2 linked regions of the Homo sapiens genome follow. The protein of the gene in region 1 purifies or fractionates together with the protein of each later gene. This does not show direct contact. Each region holds a gene or a part of one and is shown in the gene's direction. Other genes may lie near its edges. The genes, in order: KLHL25 and FBXL17.

Region 1 (3,818 bases):
TTTTTCTTGTATAAAAACCCTGTTGTAGCCACAGCTGGAGCGTAGGTCCTCTGCATGGAGACTCTGGTGAGGGTCTTGACAAGGTGGTCAGTGAATTCCTGATCGGGAGACTTGGTGAATACAGTCTCCTTCCACAGGTCAGTGGGGCAGGTAGCTGTGGTCTTCGAGATGGCCTCAAGGGTGTTGGCCATGTTTTCTCTAGGTATATGAGTTTTGCCGCCTGTTGGCTGAGCCTTGAGTTCAAAGTACTGAACTGGGGCCTCGGGTCATGCCATTCACTGGACATTAATGACAGTGCTTTAGAATTCCCCTAGATTGAGCAAGTAGTGAACCTGTTTCTTGGCCATCACTCCATCACTCTGAGCGCCAGGTCCCCAGGCCTGGTGGAGAAGGGCAGGCAAGGGAGGCAGGGGAGGCGCTGCGTTGGCCCAGGATCCTGGCGTCAGCTGGGGGACCTGGGAAGCTCTGGCTTCGTGTTTCTCTGCTTTGCTGAGGCAAATCTGGATCACTTCCGTTAGGGTTCGGCATGTCCTGCTGTCATCTTGGGCCTCTGCGTTGGTCTCGAGGGTGAGTCACTGGCGGCCCCACCTCCAAGCCATCACTTGCCCCAGCTAGGTAAAGAGCCCTGTGGAGACACCTGGATTCAGAGAACATGTCTCCACTGAGCACTTGGGCCTTGATGGCGGCTCTTGTTCCAAGGCAAGGGGGATGTCTAGCCAGTACCGCTTGGAGCCCGGCCCAGGGCAGAGCCTGCTGGGAGCAGGGAAGTGGGTACGTGAGGCTCTGCTTGGGCGTCCACAGCAAACCCTGCAGGGATTAGTCACCTTGAACAGAGATCAGGCTCCAGAGCCGGACAGCCCATGTGAGAATCCTGGCTGTGGCAGTTTGGGTAGTTTCTTGGCCTCTCTGAGCTGTGGCTTCCCTAGCTCTAAAATGGGACTTACAAGAGAAGCTTCTGTAGAGGACTGTCATGAGAGTGGAATGTGGTCAAAGGCACCAGTTACTTAGCACTGCCCGGACACCAGCCTCAGTCAGGAACACCGTTTGCATGTTCTCTTAACCATGGGAGGCAGCCTCAACTGGAGCTTGCCTAGGGGGTGGCTCATCTGCAGGCCAGAGATGTTTGTCCCAGAGCTGGCTCATACCCTGAGAACAAAACCAGTTTCTGCAGGGCAGGGTGAGACCCAGCCACTCTTGCCTGTGTTGTCCTTGGCAACGTGGTTGCGGGAGAGGGGCTTGGTTTAGCAGAGGTGAGCAGAGAGTGGGTGGGAGGGGACAAGGGGGCTTGTGCTGAAGAGTGAGCCCTGAGAGGGCAGATGGGCAGGAGGGGCTCCTCTAACCTGTGGGCTTGTTCCCCCACAAGCTGACGCACCATGTCGGTCAGTGTCCATGAGACCCGCAAGTCGCGGAGCAGCACGGGGTCCATGAACGTCACCCTCTTCCACAAGGCCTCCCACCCGGACTGTGTGCTGGCCCACCTCAACACGCTTCGCAAGCACTGCATGTTCACCGACGTCACACTCTGGGCGGGCGACCGTGCCTTCCCCTGTCACCGTGCCGTGCTGGCCGCCTCTAGCCGCTATTTTGAGGCCATGTTCAGCCATGGCCTTCGGGAGAGCCGGGATGACACTGTCAACTTCCAGGACAACCTGCACCCGGAGGTGCTGGAGCTGCTGCTGGACTTTGCCTACTCCTCACGCATCGCCATCAACGAGGAGAACGCTGAGTCACTGCTGGAGGCAGGCGACATGCTGCAGTTCCACGATGTGCGGGATGCTGCCGCCGAGTTCCTGGAGAAGAACCTTTTCCCCTCCAACTGCCTGGGCATGATGCTGCTCTCGGACGCCCACCAGTGCCGCCGGCTGTATGAGTTCTCCTGGCGCATGTGCCTGGTGCACTTTGAGACGGTGAGGCAGAGCGAGGACTTCAACAGCCTGTCCAAGGACACACTGCTGGACCTCATCTCGAGTGATGAGCTGGAGACCGAGGACGAGCGGGTGGTCTTCGAGGCCATCCTCCAGTGGGTGAAGCACGACCTGGAGCCACGGAAGGTCCACTTGCCCGAGCTCCTCCGCAGCGTGCGTCTGGCCTTGCTGCCGTCCGACTGCCTGCAGGAGGCCGTCTCCAGCGAGGCCCTCCTCATGGCAGACGAGCGCACCAAGCTTATCATGGATGAGGCCCTGCGCTGCAAGACCAGGATCCTGCAGAATGATGGCGTGGTCACCAGCCCCTGTGCCCGGCCACGCAAGGCGGGCCACACGCTACTCATCCTGGGGGGCCAGACCTTCATGTGTGACAAGATCTACCAGGTGGACCACAAGGCCAAGGAGATCATCCCCAAGGCCGACCTGCCCAGCCCCCGGAAGGAGTTCAGCGCCTCAGCGATCGGCTGCAAGGTCTATGTGACGGGGGGCAGGGGCTCCGAGAACGGGGTCTCCAAGGATGTCTGGGTGTACGACACCGTACATGAGGAATGGTCCAAGGCGGCGCCCATGCTGATTGCCCGCTTTGGCCATGGCTCAGCTGAGCTGGAGAACTGCCTCTATGTGGTGGGGGGACACACATCCCTGGCAGGGGTCTTCCCGGCCTCGCCTTCTGTCTCCCTGAAACAAGTGGAGAAATACGACCCTGGGGCCAACAAGTGGATGATGGTGGCCCCCTTGCGGGATGGCGTCAGCAATGCCGCAGTGGTGAGTGCCAAGCTGAAGCTCTTTGTTTTCGGAGGAACCAGCATCCACCGGGACATGGTGTCCAAGGTCCAGTGCTATGACCCCTCGGAGAACAGGTGGACGATCAAGGCCGAGTGCCCCCAGCCTTGGCGGTACACAGCCGCTGCCGTCCTGGGCAGCCAGATCTTCATCATGGGAGGTGACACGGAATTCACAGCCGCCTCGGCCTACCGCTTTGACTGTGAGACCAACCAGTGGACGCGGATTGGGGACATGACTGCCAAGCGCATGTCCTGCCATGCCCTGGCTTCCGGCAACAAGCTCTATGTGGTCGGGGGCTACTTTGGGACCCAGAGGTGTAAGACTCTGGACTGCTATGACCCCACTTCAGATACATGGAACTGCATCACCACAGTGCCCTACTCACTTATCCCCACGGCCTTTGTCAGCACCTGGAAGCACCTGCCCGCGTGAGGAGCACCTGCTGAGCCCAGCCAGGTGAGTCCCTGGCAGCCCACGGCCACTCTGGGTCCGGAAAGGTCATGGGGGAATGCAGTCCCACCTCTTCCCACTGGGTGAAGGTCACCGTGTCTTCCAGGGAAGTCTGGGTGGGCAGCAGGTGGCTGGTGTGCTCTGGAGTCAAATCCTGGCTCTGCCTTCTATTTGCAGTTAACCTGGAGCAAATTATTGAACCAGTCTGCAAAATGGGGACAGTAACCATGGTTAGACCAACATGGTGGTTCCCAAACATGGTTATACTTCAGAATCACCCAGGGACCTTTTGACAGTGCTGTGTGGAGCATAGGTCAACCTGCAGAGTCTGAGGGTGCAGTCTCCACACAAGCCTGCTCTTACTTTTGACACCAGGTGCAACAAAGGGGGCCTCCCAAACCACCCTCGGTCAATTTTGCCAGAAAGACTTATAGAAGTCGCTGAAGGCTGTTATGCTCACAGTTACAGTTTATTATAGGGGAAAGATACAGATTAAGATAAGCCAAGGGAAGAGACATGTACTAAGGCAGAGTCCAGGAGAATGGCCCCCTCCCCATGGAGTCAGGACAGTGTTACTCTCCTGGCACTGATGAGTGATGATATGTATGAAGATTGCCAACCAGGCCCGGGCATGGTGGCTCATGCCTATAATCCCAG
Region 2 (3,818 bases), on another chromosome or scaffold:
TTGGGAACTATCATTCACCTTTATTGTCACAGAAATCAACTTATGCTATCTTAGAATGAGGAAATTATCAGAAAACCATTTCTCTTTTCTTTTTGATATTTGTGGCACTGTTTTCAGGGTTTTGATTCACAAACCAGTGCACCATAAACTGGTGCTGGGGTATTGAAATTTGTTTTCTGGGCTCCTTAAATATAAAGGTGGGCACATTTATCAAAGTCGGTAGAAAAGAGCCACATTCACCACTTGGTCGCTGTGATGGGGTGATGGGTTATGGGACTTTGCAGTGATTAGTAGTGCACATCATAGATTATGGGATAAGTGTCTGCACTTTAGTGGTGGTACAATGCTAAACAGCCGAGAAGACTACAGATACTCTCATAGTTTACAGACGACAGGCTTCATTTTGTATGTTAATAGAAGGAAGACTTCTGATAGGATGAGGAAATTCACCATAACAAATGCATTCTGTTTACTGCACTCTAGCATGGCACCAATTAAAATCAGCAGTATGTATGATGTACTCTTAATTCCTAACAGTCCCAAGAAGCGCTAATGTGAAAAATATTTTATACTTTTACATTTTACAGGTCATGAACAGATGGAAAAAATTATGCCAATTGGTAAAGACATTCACTTGCAGTATAACACTCCTCAAAATGGTGTTTACGTGGGTTCTTCTTTAAAAAAAAATTAAAGTTATCTTGGGTAAAATTAAGTTAGTACTTGGGTTTTTTTAAATGTTGTATCTGTAATACATTTTAATTTATTCCTTCTGCAGAGCTGAATGTTTGAAAGTACAGGTAACCTTGTAATGAATAAAACTGATAAAAGGTTGTGTTCAATGAAAGGGAAATTATGGAATGATTATTCACTTTGCAAATGGGTTTGTCATAGGGAAGCTTTCCTAAAGCATTTCAAATTTAGTTTAGTTTATAAAACGTTCATTTACACACAAAATTTCAGGAACAAATTTAGTGAGGAAATGAGATGAATAGTCATAATAAGATAGAGCTCCCTTACACTGCTAACATTAATGCTTTCTCTGCGTCCCTTCTTGCAGCACTGATAGCCATTGGGCGATACAGCATGACAATAGAGACTGTGGATGTCGGATGGTGTAAAGAAATCACAGACCAAGGAGCCACCCTGATTGCACAGAGCAGCAAGTCTCTGAGATATTTGGGGCTGATGAGATGTGATAAAGTAAGAGTTGACTATCAAGTTGTTTGCTTTCTACATATCAGTATAGTTAATAGCTTGATGTCATATCCTCTCTCCTTCTCTATCTCCACCCCCGTGTATTATATATTATATATACATTTTATATGTATATATGCAATTATAGCTATGCATTGTTTGCCTGCTTTTGTAAACTAATCTGAGATTATCTTTGTATTTCCCCACTTAATAATGAATTTTGTGCTTAAGTAGAAAGAAAAAGTAATCATATACATAGTCAACTAGAGTTTGGCATCCTATTCATAAGTCCATGGACCAAAATGTAAAAGATTACATGACAAACTGCAATTTGCAGGGTCTAACCGTAAAATTGTATTCTGGGTTTCAAGTTTCCAGCAACAGTAAAGGTGGAAAGAACAGTGCCAAATTGGTTTTTCACAAGTGTGTAATTTTGGTACTGAACATCTATGTATTCTGGCCATTCGGGACCAACAAAGGGCCAGTAAGGGGGTATGTGGGAATTTGCATCTCCCCATACATCAGATGCCACTCCCAGCACATGATAAGAAGTGGTTCCAGAGGTCCTGGTGGAAGGCCTGTAGAACCAGCCAGGGATGTGAGCATGAGTTTAGGAAATGGTGTAGCATTTAACGTGGGACCCTTTGAAGACTGAGAAAACAGATAATAAAAATCTATACTGACACCTGTAATCCCAGCACATTGGGAGGCCAAGGCAGAAGGATCACTTGAGCCCAGGAATTTGAGACCAGCCTGGACAACATGGGAAAACCCTGTCTCTATCCCCCTCTCCCCCAACAAAAAAAAATTAGCCAGGCATAATGGCACACACCTGTAGTCCCAGCTACTCGGGAAGCTAAGGTGGGAGGATCACCTGAGCTCAAGAGGCCGAGGTTGCAGTGAGCCGTGATTGTGCCGCAACCACCTCAGCCTGGATGACGGAGCACGACTGTGTCCCAAACAAACAAAAAAAACCTATACTGGACACCAGGCACTCCACAGGTGTTTTCTTCTTTGTTTATTCCATGTTTTACCTATAACAAGTCTAAGAAATAGTTATTTGCATTGTGAAGGGGAGAAAATGGAGGCTCAGAAAGACCAGTCAGTGGCCCCAGGATACTCTGGCAAGACTTCATGCCGGGTCTTTGGAGTCTGTATCCAGTGCTGCTGGCACAACCCAGGGGGCAGTCTGTGGCCACGGGGACTGCTTCCCTTGGAAAAGGTCCAGTTCAGATACTTGCTCAGAAAGTGCCGCCATCTTGTACTAATTTACACATGTGTGCTACTTTTGTAAATGGTGATTAGGAACAAATCTAGCAAAATAATGTGAAACTAAATAGACACGCCATTCAAAGGGCATGCATCTTCTAAATGTAGCAAATGTGGGGGCAAATGAAGTATGGCCCAAAGCTCTTGTGTCCTTTGTGATTTTTTGTTAATTGGCTAATTCTTTTCTCCAAACACTTTAGAATCCCAACTTATACGAGACCTTTGCCAGCTAGTTATGTTTAGAGAAATGTTATTATATATTCTCAGCCCAGCCCAGAAGCGACTTACTTTGTAACTAAGCAACAGCACTGAGATCCGGGGCTTGCGAGTCTCCCACAAATCTTTCCACTAACCAACCTAATGCCGCTGCTAACCCTGCCACTTTAAAATGACTTCTTTTAAGACAAGTTAAAGGGTCCACCATAGGCATAGTCCTCTAGAAACAGGAATCAATGACAGCAGAACTCCTCAGCTTCCAGCAGAAGGAACTGCCACATGAATGCTAACTAAAGCTACCAAAATGTACACATTCATACATATGTGTCCGCAGCCATTCTCAGAAATTGTCATATTTCTAACCTGTAATCTTTAGATGGTTAAGATCAGCTCCATCTTCGGAGATACACTGTAGAAGTTGTATGTTACAGTTACTACAGGAGAATGTTATTCCAGACATATTTGCTGACCAGCATTTTGCTGATTTTTAGTTAAGAAATGGGTTATTTTCTACCCAAATGCAAATTAGTCCAAAATTAAATAGAGACAGTATTCAGATTAGCTGTATCCCTGAGGGTTTTAGCCCTTTTCCTGGGCTGCCTCTGAATCCTTTCTCTAACCAGAGAGCCACTCTGAGAACCCATTGGCTCCAGCACGACGCCGTCTGGTCAGAGCCTGCTGCAGTGCAGCCCAGGGAGATGCTGGACCCAGCCTTGCTGTCTGGCTTCCTCAGACTTAAAGCAGCTCAGAGCCAAACACGAGAGGCTCTGTGAGGATGGAAGACAGTTCCAAACCACACACAAAGCACAAGTAAAGCCTTGCACAGAAAAGCCTGCTTGTTGGTTTAGTTGGATGGAAATCTAAAGTAGCTATTCAGTTTTCAGATTTTGTATCATGCCATCCATCTCCAGATTTTAAGTTACCATCAAGATTCAAAGGAAGATATGAGTAACAAAGAAAAGAAATTAGTAGCAACGGTATGGTCTGCGGAGAGCCAGAGTTCAGGTTCAGATCTGGGCTTTGCACTTACTAGTTGTGTCACCGCGGGCAGTTACTAACCTCTCAGTGCCTGTTCCCTCGTTTGCAAAATGAGGATGATACTAGTACCTATCTTGTAGAATTGTGAGCATGTGAAT

Evidence for each region.
Region 2: the proteins of KLHL25 (region 1) and FBXL17 purify together in Homo sapiens (co-immunoprecipitation; one large-scale study listed by IntAct). This does not show direct contact.

The regions. Positions count from the first base shown.
Region 1 is NC_000015.10:85,767,366-85,771,183, reverse strand, and holds part of KLHL25 (kelch-like protein 25), read left to right. Parts: intron 1-605; exon of another isoform or gene 606-688; intron 689-1,363; 5' UTR 1,364-1,373; coding exon 1,374-3,143; 3' UTR 3,144-3,167; intron 3,168-3,818. UniProt on the Homo sapiens protein: Substrate-specific adapter of a BCR (BTB-CUL3-RBX1) E3 ubiquitin ligase complex involved in various processes, such as translation homeostasis and lipid synthesis.
Region 2 is NC_000005.10:107,878,422-107,882,239, reverse strand, and holds part of FBXL17 (F-box/LRR-repeat protein 17), read left to right. Parts: intron 1-1,060; coding exon 1,061-1,203; coding exon of another isoform or gene 1,204-1,377; exon of another isoform or gene 1,378-3,818. UniProt on the Homo sapiens protein: Substrate-recognition component of the SCF(FBXL17) E3 ubiquitin ligase complex, a key component of a quality control pathway required to ensure functional dimerization of BTB domain-containing proteins (dimerization quality control, DQC).